2 separate regions of the Homo sapiens genome follow, and region 1 is linked to region 2. Evidence: fine-mapped expression QTL. A gene starts in region 2. The other region holds a variant in brackets. All regions are shown on one strand. Distances are between the middles of the regions. Region 1 overlaps STARD3 (StAR related lipid transfer domain containing 3). Region 2 holds the start of PPP1R1B (protein phosphatase 1 regulatory inhibitor subunit 1B).

Evidence for each region.
Region 1: its variant is fine-mapped to the expression of PPP1R1B in whole blood (TOPMed, PIP above 0.99).

The regions. Positions count from the first base shown.
Region 1 is chr17:39,654,153-39,656,652 of GRCh38, reverse strand. The region is part of intron 2 of STARD3 (StAR related lipid transfer domain containing 3); the gene reads right to left. Among named protein-coding and RNA genes, the nearest start is that of TCAP, 9.9 kb to the left of the region's middle. RefSeq lists an enhancer at 2,090-2,500. The variant A/G (reference allele first, on the strand shown) is at 1,522.
Region 2 is chr17:39,625,163-39,628,176 of GRCh38, reverse strand. It overlaps PPP1R1B (protein phosphatase 1 regulatory inhibitor subunit 1B), which reads right to left and starts at 1,225. Exons shown (of 7, transcript NM_032192.4): 1 at 704-1,225. The coding sequence starts at 784.

The DNA.
Region 1 (2,500 bases), 29 kb before region 2:
CATCTCCCTCCCAGCACTGCGGTGCTCCATCTTCCCAGCCATAATCCATCTGGGCTGATGGGGGGTGGGGGTGGGCAGTGGTGTCAGACGGAGCCTCAGGTGGCAAATCAATTGATTAGGTTTATGCTTAATGGGCAAAATCCATCACGCTGCTTGAGAGGGTGAAGTGGAGACGGAGTGGATGTGTCCTTGCCCCTGTCCCTACCCCAGCCCACCAGACATTTTCACCAGGACCCCTGAGGCCTTGGCCCTGACTCCAATGTCCAGAGGTTTGAGGGAACTGGATGGACACCAGGCCAGACTGCGACCTGACTCCTTGGAATGACGGGGGTGACGGGCCTAGGCTCCTTCAGGTGGGGCACCAGCCACCCTGGAGAAGGGAGGACACAGGGACTCTGGGCGATGGAGCCCAGGAGCCCTGGAGAGGAAGACCCCTCACAACCGCCTAGACTGGGGCTTCCGCTCTCCAGCAGGGCAGCCAAATCTGGGGGGGCTTGTTAAAGATACAGATGCTCCCCCACTGAGCACACAGCCCCACCATGTGCCTCTTCCTCAAGCCCACCCCAGCTCCATGAAATCTGATGCCACCTCTCCTCTGGCTGCCGGTGAGGCCCCCAGGCCTGCCACCCACCCACCCCATCCCACCCAACCCACACCACCCAGCACTCCTCTTGCTCCTCAGACTCTGCCCTGGGCTCTGCAGCCCCTTCCACCCTCAGTCACTAGGCCTCAGAGCTCTGTCCTCCTTCCTCTTTCCAGCCTGGGCACCCACCGGTGCTGACCGATCAGGACTCGGGAGAGCCAAGTCTCAGCCCCTGCTTTGCCACTCTCTGGCTCCAAACCCCCTGCTCAGCACGACCCTACTGAGTCCTTGTAACCACTGGGCAACACAGACACAGTCTGTCAGCGAACTAAAAATATATGCTCCCAAATACAAAAGTAAAACTACAAGACTGAAAATCAATACAATTTTAATTAAATGTCTGCCAAGGGAAACATCATGTGGACTCTACTAATTGTTCAGTGCAGGATTCTGAAATGTTTCATGACATCTGAAAACAATTAGTAAGTTAGATCTTCTCACTTTGCAAGAATTCCCAGGTACGCATGAGGACTGCAGAGCAATCGCAGCCAACACAGCCAAATAACTTCAAAAGCACAATTACAGAGGCCAGGCACAGTGGCTCATGCCTCTAATCCCAGCACTGTGAGAGGCCGAGATGGGAGGATCACTTGAGCCCAGGAGTTTGAGACCAGCCTGGGCAACATAGTGAGACTCCATCTCTACCAAAAAAAAAAAAAATAGCCAAATGTGGTCATGCACCTGTGGTCCCAGCTACTGGGGAGGCTGAGGTGGGAGGAACCCTTGAATCTAGGAGTTGGAGGCTACAGTGAGCTATGATCACATCACTGCACTCTAGCCTGGCCAATAGAGCAAGACCCTGTCTCAAAACAAAACAAAACGAAAGTAAAATTATCAAAATCTTTTCAGCTCTTTTTGGGTAAGGAAACAAGTATTCA[A/G]TGAAGGATGCAGGTAAGTTTTAGTGTTTGCTTTGATGTTGGATGGGACCTTGAAAAGGAAGTCTGCCTAAGACCTTAGAAGCTCTGCAGAAGGTCCTGAGCCTGCTGGGCCACAGCTTTTTCATGGGTAAGATGGCCCCTAGGGCCATCCATGGCCATGGCTCCAGCTCACTGAAGGTGCCAGCTCATCTCTGGTGCACAATCGACAGTCACCCTCAGAGCCCTGTCTCTCCCTCCAGCTCAACATGCCCAGAATCAAACTTAATCTCTTTGCCCGGAGCTGGCCCCTTCTCTGAGCTCATCACCTCTATTAACAAGACATTGTTTTCTTGTCACATAAGCATGAGACCTGGAGGAAGGGCCCTTGCCATCCGGAAGTCTGATGGGGAGCCCATGCTGCAGAAGGAAAACGAGGGGAGGACTCAAGGGGCTGAGTCCCTTGCTGAGGTCATCGGGCCAAAGCCGAGGAGGAGCTGGGACAGAACTGAGCCTGGGGTGCCCTGCTTCCAGGGCTCCTGCTTATGTGGGCTTGGCCCTGCCTGGAGACCAGATCAGGCCACTGCCAACTAGACTGTGTTCCTGAGGGTGGGCCAAGCACTGCGTGGGGTGGGGGTGGGGCAGCTCTGGTCTCCAGGCTGCCCGGCAGCATCTCATTAGAGCCACTGGGAACTGGGAGTTTTTCCTGTTTTGCTTCCCACTGTGCCCTCTGCTTTTATTTACTTATTTATTTGAGTCAGGGTCTCACTCTGTCACTCAGGCTGGAATGCAGTGGTGCAATCATGGGTCACTGCAGCCTCAGACTTCTAGACTCAAGCAATCCTCCCACCTCAGACTCCCAAACGGCTGGGACAACAGGTGTGCACCACCACACCTGGCTAGCGTCTGGTTTTAGCACAGTGGTTGGGACACAGCAGAGACTCAAAAAATGTTTGCTGAATGAATGAATGAATGAATGAATGAATGATCGAACAAACGAATG
Region 2 (3,014 bases):
CCACTAGGGATGGGAAGTGGAGCTCTCTGTCACAGCACCCGCCAGCCTTTGGAAGCCCCTCAACCCCCAAGAAGGCCCTCAGGAGGACTCAGTAGTCTGTGGGAAGAGGTCTGGCTTTGTGATGACTCCCCACCTCTCCCTCCTTGGGGTTGGGGCTCTGGGGCCTGACAGCAGGAGGCCAGAGCCAGGTTCTGGAGACCCCAGCCCAGGCACACACGCGGGATTAGAGAGGGGCAGGGTAGTGGATTCACCCGGTGGCAGCCTCATACTCCTGCCCTGGGTGACAAGGTCAGTGTCCACCGCTGCTCACATCTGACCAGCTCTGGGACAGAGCCAGGCGGAGCGGTCCCGGTGGTAGCCTAGGAGACTGACTACCCTTTGGGGACTGTGCTGGGACCAAAGGACGCCCCCACCCCACTCCTGGGCGGTCTGGAATCGGCCTGTCCCCCCACCCCCGCACCCCCAGCCTCACTGCCAGGAACTCTCTTGCCCCGGGATCAGGACCAAAGCCGCGGGGAAAAGTTGCACGAGTCTCCAGCTAACTTCACACGCGGCCCCGCGCCCCGTCCTGACCGAGGCAGAGCCCGGCTCTCCTTGCGCCCCCACCCCCAGGCCAGTCCGGCCGGGGCAGCGCCTTGGGAGGGCGAAGAAGCCCCGCGGGGTGTGTCGGGTACGCTGCCGGGGTGGGGCACGGGCCCCTTACCATCTCCACCTGGCGGGGGTCGAGCTGGCTAGGGGGCGCGGGCACCGAGAACTGGATCTTCTTGCGGTCCTTGGGGTCCATGGCGCGCGGGGTGGGCGGTGGGGCTGGGGTGCGCGACTCGGGGTCCCGGCGGCGGTCTGTGCTGGGCTCCCCCGCGCAGGCGGCGGGCTGTGCGGCGAGAGGAGGAGGAGGGCTGTTCGCGCACGGATAAAAATACCGTGCCCGCCGAGGGGAGGGCGCGGGAGCGGGAGGAGGGTCGGCGCCCGGGCTGGGCGCGCCCCCAGGCTCTCGGGACTCGGGGCTCGCCCCCCGCGCTCGCTGAGCCAGGTCTGTGCCTCGCTCCCTCGCGCTCCCCGGCCTGGGTGTCTCTGCGTCTCGGTGTCTCTCCCCTCCTGAGTGTCTCTGCGTCTCGGTGTCTCTCCCCTCCTGAGTGTCTCTGCGTGTCTCCTCTCTCTGCCTCTCCCGTCCTTCTCCACCTCCCTCCCTCAGCCTCTCCTCCTCTCCGCGTGTGTCTCTGCCTCTGCCGGGCTCACCCTCCGGTCCCAGCTTTGGGGTCCCCAGCCCGTCCCCTCCGCCTGGGACTGGCGCCCGGGTGCTCGGAGGGAGGGTTTAGGGGAAACTGGCCAATGAGCATGGAGAATCGTGTTCTCCTGGGGCTGGGAGGAGGGTGGGAGTTAGAGCCAAGGCCTGGGGAGCCAGCTGGGGGGCCCCCTGCGGTCTCCCCAGAACTTGAAGCTGCATTATTGATGGAGTCCAGCAGAGAGGATAAAGGGGGAGGGAGGGGGAGAGGGGCAGCGGGGAGGCAGGACTCTGGCTTTAACCCCTTCGTGGTCCTGGTACTGGGAGTTTCAGAGAGGCCTGCGAGGTCGTGGGGAGAGTACCAGCCTGTCACGCTGTGAATGGGGGTGTCCTGGAAAGGGAGCGAGTGTGACCGAGTTGTGTGTGGGAGGACACGTGTCAGTCATCGTGGCAGGGAGAGTGTGCAGGGGTGTGCCGGGGCCCTGTGGTGCCCATAGCCAGGGAGTGTGTTTTGGGGGGTCCGGTGTGGTGTGAGTGTGTCTGTGTAAGTGTGTCAGAGTGTCAAAGATGCAGGTGTGAGTGGCAGGGTGTGGGAGGACTGCGTGTGTGCGGGGGAGGGTGTGGGTGTGGGGGAGGATGTCAGAGGCTGTCAAGGTGATGGGCAGGCGTGTGCCAGCTTGCAGGGGGTGGGGGACTGTATCCACAGCTCCGCTGTGCAGTTGCTGGGGTATGAGGTTGTGGATGTGTGAGCGCTCCTGTGAGGGAGAAGGGGAATGTGCCCTGCCATGATGTACTGTAGATTCACGTGGCTCCTGTCTTTCCTCTCCGGATCTAATGGGGTGGGGAGGACAGGGCCGGCCCAGAGTTGGGGTGGGTTTGGGGGCTGCCTGTACACGTGCCATCACGTGCATGAATTTGGTGCATTCAGAAGCAGGGTTGGGGGAGACAGGTGTGAGCCTCTCTCTCTCCAGAGGTATTTGTGTGTGTCTCTGGAGCGGGAGCGGGAGGAGCTGGCCCTGTGGGTGGAATGTCCCTGTCTATTTGGTCTATTTGTCCGGGCCTTGGGTGCCTTTGCAGGAGCTGCTGTTTCCCTCCTTGGAGCTGTGCAGAGGGTCTGAATGCTTCTGTCTAGCACTGAGAGGGTGTGTGTAGACGTGTACATGCATGTTTTCCTGGGGCTCTGTTTGTGTTGGCGTCCTCTCTCCTGGTCACTCTCAGGCCTGAAACCCCCAATCCTCCTGCAGCTTTTCCACTCCCAGCCCCAGCATCTGGGTCCTGGGTGGAGTGAAAGGCCAGAGGAATCTTCTGGAATTGGGGTCAGGGCCCACTCTGGGGGTGAGGGAAAGGGTGGCAGGAGGTCCAGAGTGTTGCTCATAGGAGTGGGATGTCCTGGCCATCCAGCTCCACATCAGCCCACCCCAGGCCTGGCTCAAGTCCCTGTATGTTTGTTGACTTATATACTTGTTGGGAAACAGCTGGATGATAAGTTGTTGGCCCAGGGGTGTAGGCATCTCTGGCAGCCCCTAGGCTTGGCCCAGAACCTCTGTCGAAGATGGGGTGTGGTGGGGAGTGGCAAAGACCTGTTTGGCAGTGCCTTCGGAGGGTAAATAAGGAGGTCCTGAAAGGAAGAAGGGGTATGGGAAGGGCATGGCCCAGGCAGTGGCCCGGACAGCCACTGGGTGGGCAGAGGTGGGGAAGGGGCTTGTGGCTTCCAGTGCTGGCAGTGTGGGGAAGGATCGTGGGGATGAAGGGGACAGAGGATAGCTGGGAGGGTGATGAGAGGGTGGAGACA